Linked DNA regions of Homo sapiens. The protein of the gene in region 1 interacts with the protein of each later gene in a pairwise test. Each region holds a gene or a part of one and is shown in the gene's direction. Other genes may lie near its edges.

Region 1 (7,794 bases):
GAGATTGCATGATTCAGGAAAAAAATTAAAACAACAACAATAACAAAAAACCAATATATATAGGTTTCAGGACTCTCCATCGTTTCATTCCACTGAGAGTTTTGGAATGTACTCCCTGTAGGATAAATGAGGACTACTGTATACTCAATATGAAATTCTTATTCACTGCAGGATGTTACTGACTTAATAAAAAATGGGAAGATTAAAAAATTAGTGCAATGCTTTGTCTCAGCTTAACTGCATCTGTATATCAAGTTTTTCCAAGTTTGAAATGAAAGCTTTTTTCCCTCCTATATTTCCTTTTTTTCTCCAACTTCCTTCTGATTCTATCATACTTTTTCCTGGAAAAGTTTTTCCCAGTGTAAGATTGCCTGTTTGCTTTCTTTACCTAAACTGACCTTCCCTCAGTGTGATTTTGGTTTGTCAAGATCATCTTGGGCTTAGGGCCTCAGTCTTGAGTTCCTTCATGGGACCATGGATGTGAGCGGCACAAAATATTTTAAAAGTTTTCTTTCCTTGGGCAGGTGAAAATAGTCTTCACGATTTTGGATTGTCTTTGCAATTGCAGGACCTGACTTACGGGGTCCTGGTAAAATATCCCATTCATTGGAGTAAAATAAGATAACGAGATAATTAGGTCAGCTCTGTGTAAGCTAGACAACTCTTTAACAACCACTTGGCATATTTAATATATTATACCCCTGAAGTACAGGGCTTGGGTGATTTTCTGGAAGGTGCTTTCTCACTTGATTCCACTTATACTATTCTTTCAAAGCCAAGTTCCCCCCTTCCACCCATTTTGTGCTTTATAACTAGCAGTTTTATTGGCTGCTTGTTTTTTAACTGAGTCTCAACCTCTTTGTGGAAGTAGGTGACACCATGGAGGAGGGTGAGTGAGAGGCCACACCAGCCTTTGGGTACCTGTCCACTCTGAAAATTGAGCTCCTGTTGACCTGCTGTGCAACACTTTCCAGGGTCATCCCAGATCCAAGCAACTGGGTCACCAGTCTGTGCTTGTTGAGAACCCAAGAACCATTTTGTTTTGTTTTGTTTTGTTTTTGGCAGGGTCTCACTCTGTTGCCCAGGCTGGAGAGTAGTGGCGTGATCTTGGCTCACTGCAACCTCCAGCTCCTGGGCTCAAGCAATCCTCCCACCTCAGCCTACCAAGTAGCTGGGACCACAGGCACCATGCCTGGCTAAAGTTTGTATTTTTAGCAGAGATGGGGTTTTGCTATGTCACCCAGGCTGGTCTCGAACTCCTGAGCTCAAGCAATCTGCCTGCCTCTGCCTCCCAAAGTGCTGGGATTACAGGCGCAAGCCACCACGCCTGGCCTCAAGAACCACATTTTGATAGAATCAACTTAAAAGTCCACCAAACCCACTGTGTTCCTGAACAGACTTCTTATTCTATTGAAATTGCTGAAATTGGGTCTTTTGTAGATGTAGCCTTAGAATAAAACATGAAATGGAAAGCTGCTGTAGTCTAAAACAGGAAATGGAAAGTTAGTTACTGAACTGACTTGAAAATGCTGAGAGCAGCTATGATGAAAAGTGGGGCATTTGCAATCAGAAAGAATCCCTGTGGTTCTTCCCTCATTCACCAGTGCTTTTTTCCCCAGGGAAATGAGTTTGTAAGACTCAGAAAAGGAAATGCCACACCCAGCTACTTTTGTTCTTTCAGTTTTTAAAAAAGATACCCTTAGATGTGTAGTAATTTAATTTCCTGTTTTGAATATCTTGTAAAATTACATATTTAGGAGTTTCTGAATGCTAGTTTATCTGACTCATAAACCAACTCATTGTTCTACAGCTTATCAGTTGTATAAAGTTCTACCCCCAAGGCCTCATTGTGGTGTGATTTCAGAAATGATCAGCAAAAAACCAGGGTGGTTCTGGAACACCTGTGCCCACGTTAATTTGGTGTTTGGTTGTGTTTGCAGAGCTGCTGAAATCTTGGAGGGAAGAAAACACATCCCACCCTGCCTCCGGGAAGGGGCCTCTCCTGGACATGTCTCCTGCAGCTGCTGCTGAGCCAGATGGGGACCAGCAGGACAGACACGTCAGCAAACTCATCTTCTGCTTCTTTGTCTTCGGCGCCGTCTTGTTGTGTGTGGGAGTCCTGCTCTCCATCTTTGGGTTCCAGGCATGCCAATATAAGCCCCTCCCAGACTGCCCCATGGTGCTCAAGGTGGCGGGGCCTGCATGTGCCGTGGTTGGGCTTGGGGCTGTGATCCTGGCCCGCTCCCGGGCGCAACTTCAGCTCCGTGCAGGGCTGCAGAGAGGTCAGCAGATGGACCCCGACCGAGCCTTCATCTGTGGAGAGAGCCGCCAGTTTGCCCAGTGCCTTATCTTTGGGTTTCTGTTCTTGACAAGCGGCATGCTCATCAGCGTCCTGGGCATTTGGGTCCCTGGATGTGGCTCCAACTGGGCGCAGGAACCGCTAAACGAGACAGACACTGGCGACTCAGAGCCCCGGATGTGTGGGTTCCTTTCTCTGCAGATCATGGGGCCCTTGATTGTGCTTGTGGGATTGTGTTTCTTCGTGGTTGCCCATGTTAAGAAGAGAAACACGCTGAATGCTGGCCAGGATGCCTCTGAGAGAGAAGAGGGACAGATCCAGATTATGGAGCCTGTCCAGGTCACTGTAGGTGGGTTGCTGTTATTTGCGTTCTTGCTTCTATCACAGTGGCTTTGCAGCAGGGTTTCACCAGCTGCTCTTGGTTCTCGTCTGGATTCTCTTTCTCAATTCTTCCATCTCTCACACATGTGTGTGCACACGCACACACCCCCATCATGTGTACATACACAATGGTGCTGCTGTGGGAAGCCCCGTAGGAACCTTGTATACATCTTTTCCCCCCCAGCAACTCTTTCCTACTTTGCAAAGCATTGGGATATTAAGTAGTGACCTTGACTGAGGTCACAGAGCAAATTAAGAGGAAAGTGAGAAGAACCATGAGGACAGCCTTGGAGCCTTCTGCCACCTTAGGGACTCACTAAGTGACCCTGTTACCCCTGTTATTCTCACACCAAAACCACATAGCATTTTAGTTGTGGGACACTTGGTTTCTCCTCCCAGGCTGTCACTAGCTGGCTGTCCTTGTAAGTCCTTAACCTCTCCTGCCTTGGTTTATGTCTCTATAAAATGAGCAGTGCCTCTCTAAGATTCCTGCAGCACTAACATTCTAGGATTCTGGATCTGTCTGAGTCCAGCAGTCTCCAGGTGTTTTGAGGGGCCTCTGCACTGTCTCTGTGTTGTCCTTCTTTTTTTGTGACATCATCCGTGGCTGCAGGGCTGAGGCAAAGCTTGGAAGCAGCGGGATGAACCAAGATGGAATATGACAGCACCTTTCTCCCGTGGAATGCCTACAAGTTCCTTTTGGGTCCCCCGGGTTCTACAGAAGAGATGGAGTGCCATTTCCCAGAGCCTGCCCCCTCAGAACAATAGCAGTAGCGTTGGCCTCAGCTTCACACAACCAAGGAAAAACCCCATCGCTGTTCATTGGCAGATCACTTTTTTTCAGTCTCCTACTTTTGAAAGAGTAAAGTTGTGAAACCACTGACATTTAAAAGGCTAGGAAAAGAGATCTTCAGAACAGAAACCATGGAGAGGACAGAGAGGGAATGTGACAAGTGAGATGCATCTCCTGTTTGGGGCTGTCTACTGGAAGCAGTGGAATTCACTGACTGCAGCCTGGAGGGGAGGAACTGGGTTGCTGGACTTGCATGGCACCAGCCTTGGAGAGGAGGGGCAGATGGATCTGCAGCCATTCCTTGTGTAGAGCCAGGGTAGATGCTCCCAGCTTATTTATTAATATATTTATGCATTAATATATTTATGGTGACAACACAAATATTAGTTATATATTCACAATAGCTAACACTTATATAGGGTCTATTTTTGTGCCAAACACCCATTTAAGTGCTTTATCATGTGCTCTTAAAGGTCCCCTGTGTGAAATTCATTCACACCTACAGCAATCCAAGGGGGCAGATAACGTTAGTACCTCCATGTTACACAGGAAGAAGATGAGGCATGTAGATATCAAGTGACTTGCCTAAGGTCACACCCTAGCAAGTGGTAGAGCAAGGTTCCAACCCAAGTGTCTGGGCACACCCACAGAATAGCCCTTGCATAGCACCCTGCCCAGGGCACGTGGGTGTGATTCCATTTTATCCTTCACCAAGTGTTCCTGGAAGTTATTACATGAAAAAAGGGGCTCCCTTTAATTTGATAGATGTTCTTAGTGTTCTTGAGGAACACCGTGGGGTACAAGTAAATATGTTCATCCAACGCTGCTATGCTTTCATCTAGTTGGGAACGGTTCGAGGGGAGTTTTGGGGCCCAGCCTTCCACCTGGTAGCTGGAATCAGAGTGGACAGAGCTGTGGTGCTGCTCCTGGTGTCCTTGTCCTGAAGTTGGCACTGCATGGTTTAAAATCTTTTCTACTTAACTCTTTAAGTCCCCATCAAACCTATGAAAATCTTGCATCCTAATTCCTCTCCTTTGATATTGTGGAATAGGGTTTACATTTTTAGAATCCAAGAAGCATGCTCTCCTTGTTGTGGGTACACTCAGTGCTATCCTGGATACACAGCAGGTATATGAGACAGCTCTCCTTGGAGGGGTGTATATGTTGTCTGCTCACAGAGGACATCAAGTTCTGAAAGACGCATGAAAGGGAACTCGCAGAGGAGAGGCCTCTTTCCAGGGAGAGCAGGTTGCAGGGTGTGGGCAGGCGGAGCTGCTGGGCCAAAGGGCTGGAGACCCTTGGAGGTAACAGGGTTACTGGAGCATATCCTTGTGTGTTTTTGAGAGGTGATTGGCCTGCCCTCAAGGGTTACTTCACAGGTTCTTTATTCTACAGTGTGTAATGGAAGTGAACACAACCCCAATTCCTCTAACCTACCAAGACCTTCTAAAAAAGTAAATGAGAATCTCAGGACCGCTATTATGCTTTCTCACCTTTAGATTAGCAAAACGTATTTTAAACTCTCATTGCCTTCTCCTTGGAGAAGGAAGGGGAGATGGAATTAATGCATTTTCTGAAGGGCTAAATTCCCTCTGGGAAATGATTGAGGCTGCTGTGGCTCATGAAGGGTAGAGAGTGGAGCCAGTGGCCAATTGCCTCTGTGGTGTTTCTTCATCATGCAAATCAGTGCCCTCGGCTGGTGTTGAGCTGAGAGAGTTGGCTCTGTGCTCCGCACTGTGTTCACTGCCAGATGCAAATCAGTCCATCTAGTCCTTCCTTCTATCTGTCCTGTGATGCAAGAACTGCCTGGCCTGCAGTTTACAGCTGTGGCGGCTGAGGTCAAGGAGGTCGCCTAGCTTGTTCAGGTTGGAACCCCCATCACTTTAAAGAATCCTATGCCACCCTAAGCAAGCATCAGACATGCTAGGAGTGTGAACCACTACAGGGAAGTAAAGCCCCATCTTCTTCATTTTTTCTGAACTGTTATTGCTATTGCCAGCTTCTCAGAGGCTTTCACCAGGCCCCCAGCAGTGGTGCTGCCAGAGCTCTACACTGTTCTGGTCCACTTGTGTGGTGCATTTTATATTGGAATCGGAATACAAATTAGAGTTTGCATCTGGTCCCTAGTTTCTCCTCAAAACATGAGGATGTATTCTGGAGTGAACAGTAGCCACAGAAATGCAAAAACCAAACTTCTTTGGGTTCAACCTTCATCTGTATGGGTGAAATTTTGGTAAATAACAGTTAGGGGCTGTAATATGGCTTACTGTCATTTGCTCAGGGGCTGAAACTACATTTGAGGAACAAGGCACTTTAGCCAACAGCTAACTTGTGAATTAAAGTTGTAGGCTGAAAACGAGAAAAGCTTTTTCAGCAGTAGACACCCCAGAGGAGGGAAAGGAGCTTGTTAGCAAACAATTCACAAAAAGGCTTGGTCTTAGACTTGCTACAAAATATAGACCTGCTTTCATACCATAATTGTCAGCACTCTGGATTCTGAAATGTAGGCCTACTTTTAAAAAATTTGTGGTAAAAAAAAAAAAAAAATATATATATATATATATATATAAAGCATAAACAATTTAAACTGCTTTTTGTTTCGTTTTGTTTTGTTTTGAAACAGAATCTCACTCTGTCACCCAGGCTGGAGTGCAGTGGCATGATCCTGGCTCACCACAACCTCTGCCTCCCGGGTTCAAGCAATTCTCCTGCCTCAGCCTCCCGAATAGCTGGGATTACAGGCGCCTGCCACCACGCCTGCCTGATTGTTTTTTCTTTGTATTTTTAGTAGAGACAGGGTTTCGCCGTGTTGGCCAGGCTGGTCTTGAACTCCTGACCTCAAGTGATCCACCCGCTTCGGCCTTCCAAAATGCTGGGATTACAGGCGTGAGCCACCACGCCTGGCTTTTTTTTTTTTTTTAAGACAGGGTCTTGCTCTGTCACCCAGGCTGGAGTGCAGTGGTACAATCATAGTTCACTGCAGCCTAGAACTCCTGGGCTCAAGCAGTCCTCCTATCTCAGCCTTCCGAGTAGCTGGGACTGCAGGCGTGTACTCCCACATCTGGCTAAATTTTTTCTTTTAATTTTTTTGAGATGAGATAGCGCTGTGTTGCCCAGGCTGGTCTCCAACTCCTGGGCTCAAGCGATCCTTCCTCCTCAGCTTCCCGAAGTGGTGGGATTATAGGTGTGAGCCACTGCACCCAGCCAAACCGTTTTTAAATGGTTTAGTGGCATTGAATACAGTCACAATGTTGTTCAACCATTATCATCATCAATTTCTGGAACTCTTCCATTATCCCCAACAGCAACTCTGTACTCACCAAACAGCAATTCCCACTCCCTTCCTCCTCCCGAACCCCTCCTAGCCCCTGGTAACCTAGTCTACTTTTCTATCTCTATACATTTAATGGGCTTACTTTTAAATTTTGGAGTTAGCAGCAGGTGTGTTGACCTTTTATATAGATGGGCCAAATATATAATTAATTTTGCTTTTGCTAATTTGCTTCCATTTATTACCCACCTGTTGTCAACTAAATATTGTTTTGCCTTAGGTGACTCGGTAATAATATTTCCACCCCCTCCACCACCTTACTTTCCTGAATCTTCAGCTTCTGCGGTCGCTGAGAGTCCTGGAACTAACAGTCTGCTTCCGAATGAAAACCCCCCTTCATATTACAGTATTTTCAACTATGGGTAAGAATTTCAATTTGAACTTCAAGAGAGGCCTGAATTCAGGCCACACTAGTATTAAGGCTGTGTGGTTCACCAGGAGGCATTCAAGTGTGAGTATCTTTTTTGCTGATGTTATGTCAGAATTAGTGTCTTGATATTAACAGTACCTTTGCCGAAATTTGGGCAGCACATAAGTTAAAAATGATAAAGTGATCATGCTGGGTTAATATGAAGCCTACTCCAGGCATCTATCTTTATGTGCTCCTAACAGGGGTGATACTCAGAATGTTTAACAACCCTTGCCGGGTGCTGTGGCTCACACCTGTAATCCCAGCATTTTGAGAGGCCAAGGTGAGTGGATCACTTGAGCTTAGGAGTTTGAGACCAGCCTGGCCAACGTGGCAAAACCCTGTCTCTACGAAAAATAGAAGAATTAGCTGGGGATGGTGGTAGGCACCTGTAATCCTAGCTACTCGGGAGGCTGAGGCATGAGGATCGATTGAACGCAAGAGACAGAGGTTGCAGTGAGCCTGTTACCGGCGGAGGGTGTCCACGTACTTTGTGTTTTGAACAAAGAACTGGACAAAATGCACAAACGAAGCAAGGAAAGAATGAAGCAACAAAAGCAAAATTTTATTGAAAATGGAAG
Region 2 (7,119 bases), on another chromosome or scaffold:
CACATGTTGCTTTCCTGGTGGTTCGGTGGAATGGACTGCAACGCATTAGATACTGCTGTTATTCTTCCAGGCCACCGCTCAGCTAAAAATAATTGTGTGTGTGTGTATATATATATATATGTACACACACACACATATATATACACACACACATATATATACACATATACATATATATACACATATATATACACACACATATATATGTATATATATACTACATTCTTGATCCTAAGTCTTTTTTAACTTAAATTTTATTACTTATACAGAATTCTTATTTATACTTTAATTATAGGTGTGACGAAGAGAAAGAGAGTAGGGAAATACACAGGCAGTGGTTTTAAGTGTAGATGATGGCTCCTTAACCCAGTGTCATTAGATAATCAAACCTAAAGTCTTCCCATATTAGGCAAGCGCAATTCTCTATTTTGGACCCTTCCCATTCTTCCCTTACCTTCTGCTTTTCGTACTGAGGAATTTCGTGTGATTTTAGATAAAGTGATAATGAGATATTGAGCAAATAAGAAAATAGAGGTAATGCTATAAAAAACTAAGCTATGTACACTTTCAAAATGCATGTTTCTTGCATGCTTTTTACTACTTAATTGCATTCTTTGCTAATTTCCTTTCCTTGCTGTCTGTTCTTTTCTAACAGCTGAAGAATGTTCTGCTGACTCTGACCTCAACTTTCTTATTCCTGTTGCAGTGGGTGTGGCCTTGGGCTTCCTTATAATTGTTGTCTTTATCTCTTATATGATTGGAAGAAGGAAAAGTCGTACTGGTTATCAGTCTGTGTAATCAGTTAAATCTAGTGTTTGTTTGTTTTTTTCAATTAGAAGTTACGTTTCCATTGGCTAAAAGCCAGGACATGCTGTGCAATAGATTGTTTAAGATATGCAGACTAACTTCAGTGAGTTCCTAGCTAACTTGGGCATGAGTACACTTATTTAAGACAAAATATATTAGGACCAATTTTTTTCTGTTTTTTTTCTTCCTTTGTTAAAGTATAATTAAAAGAAAAATTGTGGCTTAGAATTTTTTAAGTAAATAATGATTTTAAGCCCCTGGATCCAATTATGAAAGCATTTTTGCTGATGTGTAATTTTATATGTTACAGTTACTTATATTTTACTACTTTGATGTTATTTGCAAAATCAAAGGTGTTAAAGAATTTAACTTGCTTCAGGAAATAAATTCAAGAACATAGTGGATTCATTTTCATTGGTGGCAGACACGAAATTTGGTTCATGATAAGACTTCCTTTCCCCACCTCCTGATCAGCATTATTTAAATCTGTATTTTTCTGTTAGTTAAGAAAGAAATGGCTTCATGATATTGTATTTAATAGCAAAAGTTTGGCTGTCTTCTTCATTACTGTTAATAGCTACTATATTTTAACAAGGAGATTTCTTTTTTTGTTGTTGTTGTTCTAGAGTTTGGAATATACTGATTATCTCAGACTTGACATTTATACTGAAGGATGAAGTAAGACCTCCAGCTTTTTTTAAAAAAGGTGTTGATTTGGAACACCTGTATGGGTTATGGTTTATTAAGGTTATGGTTTAGAAAGTTTTTTTCCCTCAGAGCCTTAACTTGTTAAGAAGGTTCATTTATCCTGCACTGAAAACAAAAACTCTATATACTTTGTTTGTGTGCCTCCTGCACTCTCCCATTCCCTATGTGAATATGCTCTAGTTGATATTTTTAATATATTGATTTCTTTTTTCTCACAGCAACAAGTGCTTACTCTAGAGGTTAGTGGGCCCTGATATGTCATCAGTCAGATGCCTGCCTAGCCAAAGCTGGACTAAGATTATTCTGTACATTTGTTGATCTTGATATAGACTTATATCCCTGTAGGGACTGCTAATGGCTCCGGCTTCTGGAGTAAGGTACTGGAGACCACTCATCCCTGTGTCTGCTTGATTGGTTCAGCTGTTGAATTGCCCTTTTATTTGGAAGCAGTGTTGAAGTTGTCTAGGGTTCAAATGGCTGCTTTGTACACCTGTCATTAGTATAAGGCAGATGTTTATTTTATCAAGCTATTTTATCTCTACATTTAACTAAAAACAAAAGTTCCCAAAGATCTGCCTTCACTTCAGAAATTTTTTTTGGATTAAAAAAATTAAGCCTGAACCTTAAATAAAGTGAGTTGGTTATTCATTCCAAGGATTAAGTCCCAATCTACCTCTCAGCACAATGCAGAAGCTCACCACTGTATTGCTGCCATTAACTCATGCCAGAACCCTTTGCCAATAACTGGAATTACAAATTTTTGTTAAAGAAAATTTATCAAGATCTTTCTTTACTGCCTTCTCTATATGTACATCTCAAAAACATGTACATCTCAAAAACTGGAGTAGAAAGTTAGATTGCTCAACTACAACTCCTCTAGAACTCTATAGCTCTGACATACAGATTCACACTCTCCTCTATTTGCTAAGTATGTAAAGAATGTTTTCTTTTAAAATGTTCTCTTTTGAGAACAACTGCTTATTTGTTATAAAAGCATTTGGTTAAAATGATGTCATCATAAAAAACAGTGGCTTTGTTTCAATACATATTTTTGAGATGATTATCTAGAAGCCAGATTAATAAAATCAGCTTGTGACCTTGCTAAGCATATAAACTGGAAATTCAGATACATTCAAAATTATGGGTTCATTTAAAAGTGTTCTACCTTTTGGGTATGAGACTAATATCACTAATTCCTCAATAGTTATCATGGCTCTATCTTAATTAATTAGAAAATATGTGTGTTTAATTCTTTGAGAATTAAAATAGAGAATATTAACAGAGGGTTAAAAACTGCTTCAACTCCAATAAGATAAAGGAAGCTCAAAATCTATGAGCTGAGTGTTCAATTAGCTTTGCCTACTGAGTTCAATTTTATGTCAATACAACAGTGGATCAGACAGTACGACTTTGAACTGGTGAATGTAAACAATTGTTTTTCACCTAAGCTGCTTTGGAAGAACTGATGCTTGCTGCTAACTAAAGTTTTGGATGTATCGATTTAGAGAACCAATTAATACCTGCAAAATAAAGCATACTGTGGTACTTCTGTTTGATCTAGTATGTGTGATTTTAGATTGATGGATTAAAAATTAATAAAGATCATACATTCCATACCACTATGGATAACCTCATTTTTATTCCATATGCTCAGCCTTAAGAGCTTAGACTTAATTGTATAATCTAAGTTTCTTGAATTCTAGTCTCTTGGATTGTCAACAGGAATCATAGGATCTCATAGATCTGCAACTTAACCAAGTCCCGTCATTAGGAAGGCACTAGTACAGAACCTTTAGTACAGACACCTCAAATAGGGGGACCTACTTAGTCATGGAAATTACAAGAAAACATCAAAAACAAAATATGGAAATCTAACAAATGTAAGAACATCATAACAAACGTACTTTCCGCGTATGTCTGTCTGCATTGATGAACTATACTAATTGTTGAAGTTCATTTCATTCTGAGTGAGATATACCTCAGGGATATGGTGGGGCAAGGGGAGGAGCTATCCATTTTGTGAATTTCCTTTAAATTCCTTACAATCTAGTCTAATGCTTAATTTTTATATAATTGGATAAAACAACAACACATACATAAACATACTCCTTTTTACATGAGAGGTATTTTTGGTGGGAGAAGGAATTAGACATTGGCTCCCTCCATAGTTCCAGAATAATAGGGTTTCATTTTCTGAAAGACGTTTAATAGCTTGTAATTAAGTCAAAAAATGGCCTTCATAACTGCCACCTCATGAGGCCTCTGAAAGAAGCACTTTAAGTTGACTGATAATTAGGAAGAGTGGTTCGATATATGTTGCTGTGAGGGTTACAGTGTATCTAAAAAGTCAACTTGGAGGGTCATCTTTTTAACTTCAATGTGTATACTTTTTGAATGCCAGAACTGCCTTTAGAATTCTGATGAAATGTTTTTCCTTTCCTTTGTTTTTACTGTCTGCATGTATTTTGATAGCAGTGTAAGTTTGGGTCCCTTTAATTTCAAGAGGTATGCATAATGAACAGGAGAAATCTTGCCATACAATGCATCTTTAGTAGGAAAAATCCATAATTTTATTGAGCAGTTACAGTGCTGTGCACTTTAAACACCTTATTTCATTTAATACACCAACTCTCTGAGGTTGGGGGTATCATTTCCAGTTTACATATGGGATAACTGAGGCTTGAGTTGGTTACTTAACCAAAGTCACACAGGATTAAGTGGCAAAATGGACATTTGAACCCAGTTCTGTTTGCCCGCCAAAGACCATGCAGTTAACCACTATACATCTGCCTTTTGCAGAAGCAATAGATTTTTTTAAAGCACATGCCTTACATTAAATGGTTACAGAAATCTGACTTCTGTACTCTTCTATCTTGTATGTAGTTGCCTTATAAATATTCTTCAATATTCTTAAAATAACTTGAGTTTTATCCAGCCCACTTGTGGGGCAGATGGATGTTGTGGCAGCATGCCTTTTGGAAGATCAAAACCAAGGCCAGTTTGCACTGTACCTCATCAGTAATATTAAGCCCGAATGTCACTTTTTTCAGGGTAGCCTCATCTAGTTATTCTGATCACATATCATTGTCATTCTGCTCTCAAACTCTTCTGTACCATGAATCATTTTGACTGTGCATTAGTGTGTTTAAGAAACTAAATGGAACTGTCTCTCTTCTCACTTTCCTTAATACCATTCATACCCCTTCCCTTCATCCCTCAGCTTTAAGCGCATTGTAACCATGACACTCAACTATCTTTGCCAGGTGGTTCTGAACCTTATTAATACACAGTTCCTATTCCCAAATCTAAGGCCTTTTGGGAAGGGTTTCAAGAATTTTTTTTTTTTTTTTTTTTTGAGACAGAGTCTCACTGTTGCACAGGCTGGAGTGCAGGGGCGCGATCTTGGCTCACTGCAACCTCTGCCTCCCAGGTTCAAGCTACTCTTCATACCTCAGCCTCCCGAGTAGCTCCCAAGTAGCTGGGATAGCCACCACGCCTGGCTAATTTTTGTATTTTTAGTAGAGACGGGGTTTCACTGTGTTGGCCAGGCTGGCCTCGAACTCCTGACCTCAGGTGATCCACCTGCCTTGGCCTCCCAAAGTGCTGGGATTACAGATGTGAGCCACTGTGTGCATGGCCGATTTCAAGAAATCTTTACCTGCAAAGTTTCCAGCCATAATCTGCGAAAGCCCCATGCCCTTCCCTCCTTATCTACTACTTTCCTGTATTCACTTCAGCCATACTGACCCTTTTGCTACGCCTGGCTAATTTTTGTCTGTTTTTGTATCTTTAGTAGACACAAGGTTTCACCATGTTGGCCAGGCTGGTCTCGAACTCCTGACCTCAAGTGATCTGCCTGCCTCAGCCTCCCAAAGTGCTGGGATTATAGGCGTGAGCAACCACACCCGGCCAATGTTAGCTTTTTATTTATATTAATCTGGACTTCTTTCTAAAGATGACAGATGTCAGCTGTTCAGATAATATCATAGAAAGAGGAAGTGGAGAGAGAGAGTAAGGTGAGATAAAACCTTAAGGAACAGAAATCTACTCAGACTGGGTTAAAAAGAAAAAAAGAGTCCGGGCGCAGTGGCTCACTCCTGTAATCCCAGCACTTTGGCAGGCTGAGGCGGGCAGATCACAAGGTCAGGAGATCAAGACCATCCTGGCTAACAGGGTGAAACCCCGTCTCTACTAAAAATACAAAAAATTAGCCACGTGTGGTGGTGGGCGCCTGTAGTCCCAGCTACCTGGGAGGCTGGGGCAGGAGAATGGCGTGAACCCGGGAGGCAGAGCTTGCAGTGAGCTGAGATCTTGCCACTGCACTCCAGGCTGGGCGACAGAGCGAGATCCGCCTCAAAAAAAAAAAAAAGAAAAGAAAAGAAAAAAAGAATGAATTGTGAAGCTATGGGGTAAGTCTCACAGAATCCAATTGCAAGAAGCACATCTTGGACTCAAAGGAATACAGAATTAGATTATAAAGCTTCAACTGAGAGAATACATGGGTGATGACTACAAGGAAAGTTTAGGGAAAAATGAATAATGAATAATAACGTGCACTGCATTTGCTAAAATGTATTAGAAAGCTAGAATCAGGTGTTAGGTGGGTATAAGAATAGAGCAACAGTTCAAAGGACAAGACACAGTATACACACAAATATATACAGCAGTATGTACGTGTATGTGTATATACATTATGTATATACAGTATGCGTGTGTGTGTGTATATATATATATATATATATTTGGTATTTGATAAGGATGTTGTTTTCAGATGAGTGGGGAAAGAATGGAACGTTTAAAAATGATGCTGAGGGCCAGGCATGGTGGCTCATGCTTGTAATCCCAGCACTTTGGGAGGCCAAGGCAGGTGGATCACTTTAGGCCAGGAGTTTGAGACCAGCCTGGGCAAAATAGCAAGACCCTATCTCCACAAAAAATAAAAAATAAAAAAAAATTAGCTGGCCGTGGTGGCACATGCGTGTATTCCCAGCAACCCAGGAGGCTGAGGTGGCAGGATTGTTTGAGCCCAGGAGTTTGAGGTTGCAGTGAGCCATGATTATGCCACCGCACTCTAGCCTGGGCAACAGAGGGAGACCTTGTCTCAAAAAAATAAATTAGAAAAAATATGATGCTGAGATACTAAGATACTAGGTTAGTTATTTGGGAGAAAATACACTTAGTCGCCTACCTCACAATACCAAAATAAATTCAAGGATAATTAGAGTTAAGTTTTTAAAAAAAAACTATAAAAGATATAGAATCAAATATAATGGCTGTTTATTTTATCTCAAAATAAAGACCTTCCTAAGAATAGAAGAAAAAGAAGAAATGGCAGTGGAAAAAAAGATTTCCATATAAAAACATTTAATATATCTGACCACTAAAATGCTACCAGACACAAATTTACAGGTAAACTACAAACAAAGGAAAGTATTTGCAATCTTAAATATAACAAAGAGTTAAGGTGATATTTTTACTATCAAATAAATACAAACAAGATGAATATTCCCTGAATAAGCTGGAATAAGGACATGAATAGCAAAGTCATGCCAGAAGGATTGCAAATAGATAAGCAACTTGAAAAAAATGTTCCATCTCCCTAGT
Region 3 (7,794 bases), on another chromosome or scaffold:
TAAGGTGTTGATAATAACCTGAAAGTATTAAACCAAGAAGAAGGATGCTGAAAGAAACAATAAAACTCAGAAAATAGAGTAGCAAACGAGATTTTTGAGAAACGAAAGGAGAGAAAGGCAAGGTGAACACTGTTTTGTCAGCCAGAAGTGAGTCATTACTGAGCACAGAATTAATGCTAGTGATATACCTGTGTTAAGATGGGAGGAAGCCACATATTCTAGAGGAAAATGATGCATGATAAACAGCTTGAGTCATCACCTCTAATGTTTAATTAAAAGTATCCAGAAGGCTGTAGATCTACACAGAATCTTTTTACTGCTTTATTATTATATAGGCAGTGCTACCTTTTCTCAAATACCAGTATATTCAATAATAAAAATTGATTCATTGAGTACGTTTAACCACATTTTATGACCTTTAAAAGATGTCTTCATAGTATGAATAGGATATGTTCCAAAAGTTAGTCTATAAATAAATTGCTGGAACATATCCTCAGCAGCTTAAATGACAGGTTTTATGGTATGTTCTGGGAAACTATTTATCTAACTAGGTGTGATTAAAGTGCTAATAAGACATAAACCACAATAAACATTAACAGCTCTTTCAAAACTTAATAATTACAAGGCACCAAACAAAGTGATTTGCATACACAATCATACTTAATCCCCCAAACACTATAAAATATGTATTGTCTCTCTTTTATAATAGAGGGTACTAAAGAAAAAATATTCAATACATTGCTCAGCTCACACAGCAAGGAACAAAGTTAAGATTTGAATTCAGATTCAACTGACTCAAAGCTCTTACTCTTTACCGTTATCCTAGTCTACCTAGGATAGGTAGTTGAAATAGTTGCATGCTTTATATACCAAGAAGTATACTTAGGTTTTCTGTAGAATTCACACCATACATTTTAGCAGAACTAAGGGTATGTGATGACTGTAAGGTAGGGTCATCCACAAAAGAAGTATGGATAAATTACCATAGGAGCAAAAAAAAGTATTCATAAGCAATGGCTTACAAAGCTGGAGCATGGTTATTTGTATGTTTAGGATTGTTTAGCTTTGAATTTGCTTTTTACTTATTGATATGGTTCCCTAAAATTTATTTGCAGTATATTTAATTTTTGTTTTACAATCAATAACAGTTCACAGAAGAAAAGCTTGGCCAGGCTGAGAAGACAGAATTGGATGCTCACTTAGAGAACCTCCTTAGCAAAGCTGAATGTACCAAAATATGGACAGAAAAAATAATGAAACAAACTGAAGTGTTATTGCAGCCAAATCCAAGTAAGAAACTCTACCTCTTGTGTACCTTAAGTACTATTAGTGGGTTTTTAAATGTTAAAAAAAAAAGTTTTAATGGCCATCTGAAAACATAGGATTTTTTTATTGTAGCTTCAAGGTCAGTGGGTTTTTTTGTGTGTGCTTTTGTGAAGAGGAAGTGATAAACAGCTATGTACCTAACCAATTTTAAAATGATATTTTTCAGTCTTTTATAGAATCCTTGTAAAAAATCTCAATTTTAGGCAGTGACTTTGAATTTTAATTTATGAGCAGCTGTGTATATAAATATGTTTTCCTTTTTCATCTAGGGAAGAATTGTCCCTAGATAATTAAGACAAAGTTATATAGTTGCTTAAGTAGGTACCATTTTTTATGTTTAAGTTTTTGGTGTGTTTTTTTGTTTGTTTGTTTGTTTGTTTGTTTGTTTTTTGAGACAGAGTCTCGCCCTGTCGCCCATGCTGGAGTGCAATGGTGTGATCTTGGCTCACTGCAACCTCCACCTCCCAGGTTGAAGCAATTCTTCTGCCTCAGCCTCCCAAGTAGCTGGGATTACAGGCATGTGCCACCACGCCCAGCTAATTTTTTTTTGTGTGTGTGTCTTTAGTAGAGATAGGGTTTCACCATGTTGTCCAGCCTAGTCTCGAACTCCTGACCTCGTGATCCACCTGCCTCGGCCTCCCAAAGTACTGGGATGACAGCCATAAGCCACTGCGCCCCGCCTATGTTTAAGTTTTACATTTTCACATAAATTATTTCATTTCATCTTCAGACAACTATGAGATTTTCAGATAAGTCAACTCAATAATCTTGCAGTTAAGGTGCATAATTGTTTAGTGAATGAAACTCATGAGTTAGCATCTTGTCAAATGTAGCATAGCTAATTAGAAGTGGAAATTGGACTAGAACCGGGTGTATGAACATCCAGTCTTTTCACTGTGAGCTTTGCATATCAAAACTGAAGAACAAAGGTACAATGTATGCTTTCCTTCTTTTTTCCCCAACTTGTTTGGGACCAAGTTGTGATATGACATATGCTTACTTTTAGATACTAACTTAAACTTCAAGCACTATATAAATATTAGCAGTTCTCTATCATTTTAGTTAAATAGTAGTGACTTTTTAAATACACCTTTTGGTTGAAAAACTTAACTGTTGAGTTCTGTGCTCAGTACCTGGGTAACAGGTTCATGTGTACCCCAAACTTCAGCATCATTCAGTATACCCAGGTAGCAAATCTGCATGTGTACTCCTTGAACTAAAATAAAAGTTGGAAATAAAATAAGCTTTTTGCACTTTGAGTGAGTCCTAATGTCTTTGGACACCATGTAATATTTTTTATTCATTTAAGGCCATTTAAATTCTACACTCTGGCACTTTTATTAAAAGTAATAGACATTTTTCCCCTTGTTCTAAACATATTTTTCTGAATGGGAAATAAGCTCATTCACAACTGGTAAACAGGGAAATAAAATACAATTTCCTCCTGCCCCTGTTTTGTGCCAGGAAGTCGTAATAATTGTTTTTGTTTTTTGTTTGTGCTGTGGTTTTTTTGTTTTGTTTTGTTTTGTTTTGTTTGAGACAGAGTCTTGCTGTGTCACCCAGGCTGGAGTGCAGTGGTGTGATCTTGGTTCACTGCAACCTCCACCTCCTGGGTTCAAGCGATTTTCCTGCCTCTGCCTGCTGAGAGTAGCTGGGATTACAGGTGTCCACCACCATACCCGGCTAATTTTTGTATTTTTAGTAGAGACAGGGTTTCTCCATGTTGGCCAGGCTGGTCTCGAACTCCCGACCTCAGGTAATCTGCCCGCCTCAGCCTCCCAAAGCGCTGGGATTACACGTGTGAGCCACCATGCCCAGCCTGTGCTCTGGTTATTAAGTTACATAGGTTTTGAGCAGCCAAACCTAACACTCCTTTTCTTGTAATTCCTATGTTGTTTTCAATGTATGATCTTCTGGAAATGGGTTTTTCAAAAATACGTTATGCAGAAATACATATTACATTGTAGCAGAGTTGCCTGCATATTTAAGATTTTATTATAACCTATTGAAATTAAACATTTATTAGTATTCCAAATATTTTATTAACTGAACGAAGTCAGCATAAGATTCCATTTTAAACTTTTGGCCAGATAGGTGGAAAAGCAGTCAAAATTAAGAATCAGAGTCAAAACACAAAGCTGTTTTTTTTTTTTTTTGAGACAGAGTCTCACTCTTTCACCTGGGCTGGAGTGCAGTGGCACAATCTCTGCTTACTGCAAGATCTGCCTCCTGGGTTCAAGTGATTGTCCTGCCTCAGCTTCCCGAGTAGTTGGGATTACAGGCATGCGCTACCACACCTAGCTAATTTTTGTATTTTTTTTTTTAGTAGAGACGGGGTTTCACCATGTCAGCCAGGCTGGTCTCAAACTCCTGACATCAAGTGGTCTACCTGCCTTGGCCTCCCAAAGTGCTGGGATTACAGGCATGTACCACCACACCGGGCCAAAATGAAGTTCTGAAATTTAACTAGTATCTTCTAAATGGTTATGTTTTAAAAAGCTCTTTTTGGTTTTAACTATTTAAAGGTATTTAATTTCTGCTTTAAAACTTCTGATTTTGTACTAGAATCTACCACAAAAGCAAGTATCATTGCTATACTCTATTTTATGTATTATAACTAAGCCTTTTACCAACTCCTGAAATGTTTCTGTTACTGGTTCAGCTCATTTTTTAAATTTTCAGTGCACTGTGTGAAACTTCCGCATGCGTAGGAATCTATGTGAGGTACTTAGAGGGAACCTATTTGACTTAGCTTCAATTTATGCTTAATCGTTGTTTCTGGAAACTTAAGCCATTTTTTCACTTGTCCTGAAATACCTCTAGGTTGGACAGCATTGTAAATGTTAATATCTTTGGTCTTAAGCATTTTGCTAACCAAGTGTTTATTCAGCTTTTGTTTTTTTCCCCTTTCCATTTATTCTAATGTTCTATTATTGCTTTAACCTTTCGTATTTTAAACTTATTTTTAATGATGAAATCTTTTGAGTGAATGCATGCTCAGAGATATACTTGTATACTTTAAACATAAACTAAAGCCAAGGCATCATATTGCTGATCTGTCTGTAGACTATTCCAAGCCTGGATTGTTCTATGCCTTAAGCGCCTGTGTCTATATTTAGACTCTAGGCAAGAAAAAGAGAGAGCAAATGCTCATGCTAAAGCTGTCAGATGTAAGTCTTTGGTTCTTCCAGGTACTTTATATCTGTATTTTCCTAGCCAGAAATCCTGATTTTGAAATTATGAATGTACATTCAGAGTAAAAATTAGAGTTAAAATGCTACAAACAGGGCAAAGACACCTTCAATAAATATTAAGTGAATTAATCAGTCCTTTTCTGGAACTTAAAATCTTGTAGAATACTCAAATAATAATTTTATTTTATTTTAAAATGCTTTTGTGCCAAGATATTTTATCAAATTTCTAAAATATAATTTTTTAGTTATATAATAGTCTAACATAAAATTTAAAAAATTATTTATTAAGATATGTGCTTGAATGAATGCTAACTTTAGGAGATGATAAATGGCTGCTGATGGGGGAAAAAAACAATCTTCTAATTAGTTTTGCTTTTTAGAAATCATTGGTAATTTTAACCTTTCTCCTAGATGCCAGGATAGAAGAATTTGTTTATGAGAAACTGGATAGAAAAGCTCCAAGTCGTATAAACAACCCAGAACTTTTGGGACAATATATGATTGATGCAGGGACTGAGTTTGGCCCAGGAACAGCTTATGGTAAGTGAAATGCAAAAAGTTCTAATAAGGGATATCTTTATGTTTAGATTTATTAGAGATGTCATTAACATATTAGTAGGCCGGGTGCAGTGGCTCACACCTGTAATCCCAGCACTTTGGGTGGTTGAGGTGGGCGGATCATGAGGTCAGGAGATCGAGACTATCCTGGCTAACATGGTGAAACCCCGTCTCTACTAAAAATAACAAAAAATTAGCTGGGTGTGGTGGCAGACACCTGTAGTCCCAGCTACTTGGGAGGCTGAGGCAGGAGAATGGCGTGAACCTTGGACGTGGAGCTTGCAGTGAGCCAAGATCACACCACTGCACTCCAGCCTGGGCCACAGAACGAGACTCTGTCTCAAAAAAAAAAAAAAAAAAAAAACATAGTAGTAGAATTGGTTTTAACTTCAAATTTATGTTAAAAATTTTTGATGAAGTGAGAAATATAGGCAAATATATACAGTTAAATGTAATATTTAATATATTCAAGCATATATTTAGTTATTCAGAGAATTCACATCTTTTTTAGTTCTAAAAAGTTTAATGAATTCTTCACTTGTTCTCCCAGTGATCTTACAATACCTATGTTATAATACTTGTGATATTGCAATTATTGTTTGCATATGTCTCTTCATTTTTAAAAAAGCTTTCTTAGGGCTTATTTTATGTTAAAGGTACTTGGCACGTAGTTCTTGAACAAATCAGTGCTTTTGTTATAATTTTGCAGTAATGTCAGTAACCAAAAAATATTAACAATTGTTATCTCTGGATATTTGGATTACATTTCATTTCTGTTTTTCTCTTATGTATTTCAAATTTTCTATAGCCGTGGTTTAGTTACACTCGCTTTATTAGTTGCTGTACAGACTTTAAATGTATAGCCCTGAAGCTCAAAGTTACATACACATCTTTATTGTCACTCTAATTTTCTCATAACATGAGACTGTTACAGATTTCAGTAGCTTCTTTTCCTGTTGTTTATGTCTAATAATAATTCTCTTTATACATCTGCAAGATACTGGTCTTTGGATATGAAATGGTAGGTAGATTAAATTAATTTCTACACATAGTTCTGATTTACAGAATGGTTTATAAATTCTAGGATTAAATGAATTTTAAGCTTTAGTAGTTATCTTTATGTCAGAAAGAAATAACCTAAATATTGTTGAATGCCACTAATCCATTGACAGGCTTTTTTAGGTACACAACTTTGAAACTTCTACATTGTGTTCTTCAAAATCTAATTTTTAAGTTTGAAAATGCTTAGAACTTCAAAATAAAATTATTTCTGAATTTTACTGTTAATTTTTAGAAAAATGTTATACATTAAACAGATGTTTTATTGCCTACTTGTGCCAAGCTCAGTTAGATGCTGGGATCATAAAGGTATGTGAAAGGAACCCAGCAGCCCCTTCCTTCACCAGGCTGAAGAAGGTTTTAGCAGAGCATGAACATTAGTAAAGGCTTCTAGATTTTCTTCCCTTTTAAATCTGCTTAATCTGTTTGCACCTCTAGTAATTCTAGTGAATGTACCCTGGTTATTAGAATTGGGCTTTGTGAACCTATTACCTTATTAGTAATTAATACTAAAAATTGAGTATCACAGGCATGGGCTAAGCATTATATAGTATATATATTTACATATTAATTCTCATTTATATCCTGCTTTTAAGATAAATTATATTACCTTCATTTTAAAGACAAGGAAACAGGTTTGGAGAAGTTAAATAATTAATCCACAGTCACAGCTAGTATAGTAATTCAAATGAAGATCTGTCTGTATCCAGTGACGGAGCTCTTAACTACTATCTGTATTACCTTCCTTATCAGTCAGATCAAAGCTTATCCTAACATGAAGGGATTAAGATCCTTAGAGCTAAAGCTTATTAGAAGTAAAACTAGGAGTGGAACCCTGATCTTGGGGCTTCCTTTCTTTCTACTCTACTTTGTACTGTACTTGCCCTATTTAAGTATCAGAGTATATGTATTGCAAAAGCATGGATTTTTTAACTTAAGATATCACTATGAACTATTACTTATAGATACTTCAGATGATAACTGCAAGGATGTAGAAACAGGACAAATTGTGACTTGATCTCTTGGAAGCATTATACTTTTATAAGTATAACCACAGTCACCCCTCGATATCCATGGGGGATTGGATCCAGGCCCGCCACCCTGAGGATACCAAAATCCATGGATACTCAGGTGTCATATAAAATGGCATAGTGTTTGCATATAACCTATGCACATCCTCCCTCGTACTTTAAATCATCTGAATGTAAATGCTGTGTAAATAGTTGTTATGCTGTATTTTTTAGGAAATAATGACAAGGGAGAAAAGTCTGTACATGTTCAGTACAGAGGCAACCATCTTTTTTTTTTTTTTTTTTTTTTAATAGTGACAGGCCCTGCTGTGTTGCCCAGGCTGGCCTTAAACTCCTGGGCTCAAACGATCCTCCTCCCTCAGCTTTGGAGTAGCTGGGACTGCAGACATATGCCACCACTGTGCCTGGCTCCTCAGCCATCCTTTTTTTTTTTTTTCTGAATGTTTTTGATCGTGGTTGGTTGAATCCATGGATGCAGAACCCATAGATACAGAGGGCCGACTGTGACCGTAAATATTTTGGGGTATATTTGCCCTCTTTAGTCCCATTGGTAGAATTGGTACAATTATCTATGCTACAATAGGAAGTTCATCTTTGTCTCCTTCATTTAGACACATACTCTTAAA
Region 4 (7,794 bases), on another chromosome or scaffold:
GGGCTTGGCCTAGACAGATGCGTGGTGAAGGTGCTGGCTCTTGGGCGGGGTGAGCGTCTTGGAGCTTTAGGCCCGATTTTAGCTGGGAGGGGGAGGCAGGGGCTTGATACTGTAAGACTTTAACAGCGGCTGCCAAAATTTGTTTTCATTAGTCGTCGGGGTGGTCTGCAGGGGGAACTGTTGGGACAATTGGCAGGAGATAATTAGGTGGTTTTAATTTAAAACATAGAACAATGGACTCATCGGTAAAGAAAGTAGTTGTCTTTTTAAACTGCGTTAAAAAGGATGAATTAGTTGTTTGCATTTAGTGTCCGTGAGTGACAGAACCTCAGTCTTTGAAAATGTATTTTTGGCAGAAGGAATTTTACCTGTCTTAAAGGTTATGTTAGGAAATAAGTTTGTTAGGAGTGAATTGTGCCTGGGTAGCCATACTGTTTGTGTTTTGTAAGACCGACTCTCACCTGAGTTAATTGGATAGAGCATTTTAAAGTTTAAAATCAGTAGTGTTATAAAATAACAATAGCTGGCTATCTTTTATATCTGCATGAAATAGGAGAGTTGTTGTTTTCACCATAACAGTTTTAAAATTAGTATTCAATGTGTATCCTCCAAGCTTAGCAAGCCAATTAGTAGCTGGTTAAGTCAGTGCTTAAAAAAAAGAGAGAGAAAACCTATGATCCAGCGGTCCAGGATTCATCTTAACTTTTCCCATTTTTTTACGGAATTTGCAAGCTCGTTTTAAATACTAGCAGAATGCGTTTTGTTTGAAACAAGGTATAGACTAATCCAATGATGTTATTACACATAAGCTTAATATTATGTCGCTTCAGATAACTGATCTGTTGAAATGAGATTTTTGAGAAGCATTTAGTATTATTTGCTCATTTAAAAATGTTCACTGTTTTTCAGATGGGGCACCCTGGCATGCATTATGCCCCAATGGGAATGCACCCTATGGGTCAGAGAGCGAATATGCCTCCTGTACCTCATGGAATGATGCCGCAGATGATGCCCCCTATGGGAGGGCCACCAATGGGACAAGTAAGACTGTTTTTGTTTTATTTTGCATTTATTTATTTGTTTTTGCCTCAGGTATTCTATCAAGATTTCAGAATCTAGGTCAGTAGTTATAGCTGTTTAATGATTAGTTTATGCCCGAATAATTTCAAATAAGCCAAATGTTAAATCATGACTGTAACGGAAATTTGAATAATGGAAAAGTCTTCTGAGAAATTTAAATAATGAAAAAGTCTTCTGAGAAATTTACTGATGACCTCAAAACTAAGAATTTTTTTCTTTATTATTTAAAAGTAAAGTGTGGATCCAGGCTTTTATTTTTAATGATTATTTTTTCAAGAATGCCAATTGAAGTTGATGGTCTAAGTAAATATTATCTGATACAGCAACATAACTGATTTTGGTAGACCATGTAAATAAATAGAATCTGAAAATAGCTATTGTTTTGGTTTAGAGCGAATTTTATTCCTGAAATATCTTCCTCTTTGTGTGTTGGAGGAGGGTGAGGGAGGGTGGGGAGTTTGTGCTCTATAATTCTGATTCTTCATAGGACAGTGCCAATAGGTAGTTCATTTTCCACTTATACTATTTTTTTTTAATGCTTGTTGCTTCTACACTCCTGCTTATGAGCTGTCCCTTCCATCTCTAGCATAAATTGTAAATGGACATTTTGTAGGAGTGATTTGGATCAAAAGGTTTTAATGCTGATTCAGTGATTTCGGTAGAACTGAGTTTCTAGAGAAGCATCCAAGAAAGGTAACAGGTTCAGTTACCATGAGTAATTTTGTGCTTCATGTTAAGTTCTATAATAGATCTTTAGGTGGCTGGGTTATTTCCATTTGAGTATTTCCATAAATCATCAAAAATTTAGGCTAACAAAATATTTTGGAAGCCAATTTCATGTGATCTTTTGCTAATTAGTACTGTTTGATAATTGTTTAAGCTTTCATGGTTAAAGTTATTGGTGAAATTGCAGTGGGAAAAGGAGCTTGCTATGTGTCTGTCTCTTTTTACTTAACCTTAAGAGTAGAAGGGCTTAATGTCCAGTGATTTTCCTCTTTTTTTTTTTAATTTGGAATATTGCCCTTAATTTTGTTAAAAAACAAAACAAAACCTTTATTCAAAGGCACCAGCCCCAAAAGATTCTGCTTGCAGGAGTTCTTTAAATAAAAGAGCCTTTTATTCTGTTACTCTAGAATAACACAAATTTTAAAACTCTCTAGGTGATGGAGAAACAACTTTGATTCCTCTTCTGTTTCTTTCCATCTCTAAGGAGCAAGGAGCTCTTCTTGTTTTCTTGGTAGAGCTGCTCTAACTAGATAATGAGCTTTAAAAATATTTATTCTTTAAATGCTCTGGTTCTTATTTAAAATTAGTTTCTTTCCACAGAAAGATAAAATAAAACAATTTGCTACTGCCAGATGCTTCTCTCTTTTCTGGGGCCTTCTGTTTCCATTGGGCCAATCAAGGTAAGTTTTGCAAGGGATTGACCTGCTTACCCTTGCTGTAATGGTGCTATTGCACTACCAAAACCAAGATACCAGCTAGTCATAGTTCTAGTTAAAAAAAAAAATGCAGATTTTATTTTTTAAAAGTACTTTCATGTATCTCATTGACATAAGCTGGTCACAGTTTGCTTTATGGCCCTTTCTCTTTAGCTGTATCAGTGACCATCTTTCTAGTAAGTTTACTTGCTACTCGGTACACATCCATTCAAATAACTGATTTTTTTGGTGTGGTTTTCTTCTACTTTTTCCTAGGCTAATATATGCCACGTGCCTTTAAGTAGACCTAATTATTTAGATGTTTAGAATTCTTCTCCCTCTGAAGGCTCCTGTTAGTATAATAAATAAATGTTTTAGTAGGAGTTATGCCCTGAAAGTCCCAAAAGAATCTCCGCTGTTTTTGTCAGAATTATATAATTCCCTTTTATCCCCTTAATATTTCACTAACAAATATGGGTCCCAAATCTTGGTAAAACAAATTCTTGTTTTAGCTTTATAACAGACTGGGAGAGCATGGATAATTTGAATTCTCAAATCAGAAATCATATTTGAAACTCTGTAAACATTGCTTTAAAAATTAAAGGTGATAATAAATAGGACAATTGATCCTTTTTCCTGCATTATTTCTTCTGCCACTCTTGGAAGTACTCAGGAGGAATAAGTGGTCAGAAGATAATTGAGAAGAAGCAGGATGTCTGTCTGTATCATTCACAGTAGTGACAGTTGGGAGGGTTCTGCCATGCAATTTAAAAAAGTCAGTTCACAAATTCTTTAGACTTTGGGACTGAAGGTTATAAAAACCTTCATGTGTTGACTGGTTTGCATGAACATCTCATGCTGGGACTAGCTAAAGACTAAAATTGGTGGCAGTCTTACTTGCCAAATAATTGTGGTCTTTGGAATGTTACCAATATGACATGAAACTGTAAAACTTGTTTGTAAAATAATATGCAGACTGGGTAGCATAATGATGTACGGAAGCCAGGGTTCATAATTTCTCAAATGCATCAAGCTATTTAGCTTAAAGAAGTGGTGTGTTCAAATTTTTTTTTTCTTAATTCATGAGATGACCTAGAGTGCCATCTCATGCATTTAGGCTGACTCTTAGTAGTAATAAATATTTGATGATTATCAAATTGAGCTTAATATTCTTTCAGGTTTATTTCAGTTTTCTATCTTGTAGATTAAATTTGCCTCTTATTCTATATAACTTTATAGGAAAGTCATACTTTTAGAGTTATAGGATCTTATAGCTGAAAGGGACCTTACAGGTTGTTTAAGCTTTAAATAATATGTGATTTAAGATGCTTTGAGGATCACTGGTTAAATGTTAGTAAAGAAAGATAAAGAATTTTCCCTGCTGGATGGCAGTACTCAAAAATTTCCCATTGGGAGGCTGAGGCGGGTGCATCGCTTGAGCTCAGGAGTTGGAGACCAGCCTGGGCAACATGGTGAAACCCCATCTCTACAAAAACTATTTAAAAATAAGCTGGGTGTGGTGGTGTGCGTCTGTCGTCCCAGCTACTTAGGGGGCTGAGGCAGAAGGATTGCTTGAACCTGGGAGGTCGAGGCTGCAGTGAGTCAAGATCACGCCTTGCACTCCATCCTGGGTGACAAAGTGAGACCCTATCTCAAAAAAATAAAGATTTTCTGTAGAGATTTCTATCAATAAAATTATGTGTGAGGCTGTCTTCTTCCTCAGTGTCCATAGTAAATACTGTTTTCATGTCTTTTGTGTTTTCTACACAAAGGACATGCAGGTCCTGCCATCTTTATCACAGATGATTATGCCTTTGCCCCAGAGTCATGCTAGCTGGCTCTTTTTTTTTCCTCCCTATTTGAGTCTTTATTTTCCTCTATCAGTGAGAAGAGTAGAGTAATTGAGTTAAGGTCCCTTTCAGCTCTAACATCCTATGATTCAGTTCAGATCATTTGATAAGAGTAGATATCAGATTTTATGGGATGATATGGAAAGAACAGAAAATTCCTTTAGTAATGCCTCCCTAATTCTATTTATTCAGTGCTTTTTTTTTTTGGTCTTTGGTCAGTAAACTGATAAATGAATAATTGCTTTTTACAAATGAGTTTGATTTTCTTGCTCCTATATTGAGTAAGGCTGGCTCTAATAGATCTTATTTTATTTCAGTTCCTGCTACCACATGAGCCCAAGTCGTCACTCTCCCATGCCTAGGTTATTCAACAGTTTTTGAGTTGAGTTGGTTTTCTTGCTTCAAGGATGCCCCCCTGCCCCCACAAATTTTAGATTTCAATGTGTTATCTCCTTGCCCAAGAATCTCCAGTACTTTCAGTGCCTATAACATAGTATCTAAATTCCACAGCTTAACTTTAAAGAACCTCCCCATAGTACATGTCAAAGCAGGATTCAAGGCTGCATGTCTTTACACTCCCTAATTTGAACTTAGGCTGGTCTTTTCACGGTGTCTTGAGTGATTATATTAGTTCACAACTTCAAACTTAGGCTGTTCTTCTTACCCTCCTGCCCCCAGCTCAGTATCACCATGAAGTTTGCTTTGCTTACCTATGTTGTACTATTTCAAGTCCTGCCTTCTCCAAAAGTTTCTCAAAAATGACTTTTGCCAACATATACCTCCCCTTCAGATTATTAAAGAAAATATTTGTAATCTACCCATAACTCTTACCGTTTCACTTATTTTGGCACCTAGTTATTGACTTGTTTTATGGTTTCTTAATTTGCTTTAATTTTCCAACAAGTAATAGATTGTAAGCTCTTAGAGGGCAGGGGCTATGTTCTGTACTTTTTAAGAAGCCTATAGGTGCTGAGCACAGTTCTTGGCACATCATGGGTGCTCAGTAAAATACTTGTTGAATGAATGAAACAAATACACAGGTATTCTTTCCTGCAGTATAAGCCCATAAGTCAGTCAGTGTTAAATGTGACTGTTTCCAGTGGTTACTTGTGACTTTACGTTGTTACTACTTATTCTTGTTTTTAGTGTCTGCCTCTTTACTCTTACTTTTTCATTTGACAAAAATGGAAGATAAATAAGATGAAATAAATAATTTTTGTTTGGAGAATAAAACTAAAATATTTCCATTTGCAGTCGACCCTCTGTATCCAGAGATTCAAGCAACTGCGATGGAAAATAGTCTTTAAAAAAGCAACAACAAAAAAATACAAATTTTTAAAAATAAAGTATAATAACTTTTATAGCATTTACATTGTGTAAGGTATTATAAGTAATGTAGAGGTAATGTAGAGGAAAAAATAACAAAGTAGGATATAGGCCTTGCAGAGAAATTTAGTGTATTGGTACCTTAGACTTACCTGACTGATTTGACAAATTTATTTGTTGCTGTTCCTTCTGAATTACCCTTCCTTTTGAGTAGCTACAGGATCCATGCCATTGAATTGGGCATTAGCCAGTGACAAAAAAGAGATAGAATTTTTGTTTTTTAGGTCATCTGCTCATAATTCTTGAATCTGGGTAACTTCTGGGTACATGTGGATGACTCAAGCAAGTACTTTTAAAAAATATCTTAACTCAGACCTAATGTCTGTAAATTCTTGACTCAATGTGGTTAGATTTTTGACAAATGTTAATAGTGAGACTACAAATACGTTTATTTTCATTATCTTTAGATAGCAGTTCATTTAAATATGAGCTCATCTATTCACAAACTTAGTGTGGAAAGATCTAAGGAGGACCACATCAGTTGAGAAGAATGACCGGCATCCCCTGCTCCCCTTTTGAAATTCACAAGGCATAATATTTACTAAAGTGATGAGAAGTCTTGCAGAAGCCTTTTACAATTTTTACTTAGTATTTCTGTCTTATTTGACCATCTCCCCCATAAATCTCCCACATAAAGCATTTGTTTTGCTTTGTGTAGCACATTGTATGAAATTAGCATTTTGTGAGAAATGCTGAATTAGGGCCCTTTATTCTTTTAGTTTGCTCTTTAGGAGAAAAAGGCAACATCAAAATAAGTTAGTGTTAACACACATATGCATAAACGAAACAGCTTGTGTAGTGCAATGAATGTATTCATTAGATAGTGGATCAAAAGAGGAAACAAGTCAATAGATTAACCTTTGATTTTTAAATTAGGCTTGTTGAATATCATGATAAGACTAATAGTAGTATTAATAGATAGTAAAGATTTGAGGCTAGGCACGGTGGCTCATGCCTGTAATCTCAGCACTTTGGGAGCCCGAGGTGGATGGATCACTTCAGGTCAGAAGTTTGAGACCAGCCTAACCAACATGGTGAAACCCCATCTCTACTAAAAATACAAAAATTAGCGGGACATGGTGGCGCACACCTGTCATCTCAGCTACTTGGGAGGCTGAGGCAGGAGAATTGCTTGAACCTGGGAGGTGGAGGTCTCAGTGAGCTGAGATCGCGCTATTGCACTCCAGCCTAGGCAACAATAGCAAAACTGTCTCAAAAAAAAAAAAAAAGATTTGGTACATATGCTACACCATAGCAGTGTACTAGGGATTTTGGGGTTTGTTTGTTTGTTTGTTTTGAGACAGAGTGTCTGTCACCCAGGCTGGAGTGCAATGGTGCAATCTCCACTTACTGCAACCTCATCCTCCCAGGTTCTCCAAGTAGCTGGAATCACAGGTGCGTGCCACATGCCTAGGTAATTTTTGTATTTTTAGTAGAGTCAGGGTATCGCCATGTTGGCCAGGCTGGTCTCGAACTCCAAGGCGCAAGTGATTCTCCTGCCTTGGCCTCCTAAAGTGCTGGGATCACAGGCATGAGCCGCCTTGCCCAACCTGTTTTTAACCTAGAGAAATAGGTCCATGTTGTGAAGGTTTATAAGTAGGAATTAATAGATGACATTCCAAGTAGAAATTATCAGTCTCATTCTTATTTTTTTCCTTACCTTTATTTTTCTTTTATTCAGTACACATTTAAGTATCTTGGGTGTGGTACCTAGTGTACAGGTGATGTATGCCCTGCTCTCAAGGAGGTCATTCCTGAGATGCCATTTTGAACTCATTTTTGTCTTCTAACTGCTGATTTGGTTGTTATGGTATTTCCGTACATTTGGAAATCTAGTGGCTATGAATATTTTATACAGGTTGAGTATCTGTAATCTGGAAACCAGAAATGCTCCAAAATCTAAAACTTTGAGTGCCAACATGACACTCGAAATAAATGCTCATTGGAATGTTTCAGATTTTTGAATTAGGGATGCTCAACCAGTAGGTAAAAAGGCAAATATCTGCAAATCTGAAAAAATCCCAGTCTGGTGTCAAGCATTCTGTATAAAGGCCTCT

What was found.
Region 2: the proteins of TMEM171 (region 1) and LAMP2 interact in binary tests that used the Homo sapiens proteins (3 or more experiments, as listed by UniProt).
Region 3: the proteins of TMEM171 (region 1) and SH3GLB1 interact in binary tests that used the Homo sapiens proteins (3 or more experiments, as listed by UniProt).
Region 4: the proteins of TMEM171 (region 1) and PRPF40A interact in binary tests that used the Homo sapiens proteins (3 or more experiments, as listed by UniProt).

The regions. Positions count from the first base shown.
Region 1 is NC_000005.10:73,121,366-73,129,159, forward strand, and holds part of TMEM171 (transmembrane protein 171), read left to right. Parts: intron 1-1,940; 5' UTR 1,941-2,008; coding exon 2,009-2,648; intron 2,649-7,024; coding exon 7,025-7,166; intron 7,167-7,794.
Region 2 is NC_000023.11:120,422,163-120,429,281, reverse strand, and holds the end of LAMP2 (lysosome-associated membrane glycoprotein 2 isoform A precursor), read left to right. Parts: 3' UTR 1-655; coding exon of another isoform or gene 656-798; 3' UTR 799-3,134; downstream 3,135-7,119. UniProt on the Homo sapiens protein: Lysosomal membrane glycoprotein which plays an important role in lysosome biogenesis, lysosomal pH regulation and autophagy.
Region 3 is NC_000001.11:86,714,576-86,722,369, forward strand, and holds part of SH3GLB1 (endophilin-B1), read left to right. Parts: intron 1-1,148; coding exon 1,149-1,290; intron 1,291-4,931; coding exon 4,932-5,060; intron 5,061-7,794. UniProt on the Homo sapiens protein: May be required for normal outer mitochondrial membrane dynamics. Required for coatomer-mediated retrograde transport in certain cells. May recruit other proteins to membranes with high curvature. May promote membrane fusion.
Region 4 is NC_000002.12:152,709,242-152,717,035, reverse strand, and holds part of PRPF40A (pre-mRNA-processing factor 40 homolog A), read left to right. Parts: intron 1-909; coding exon 910-1,041; intron 1,042-2,406; exon of another isoform or gene 2,407-2,438; coding exon of another isoform or gene 2,439-2,486; intron 2,487-4,668; exon of another isoform or gene 4,669-4,732; intron 4,733-7,794.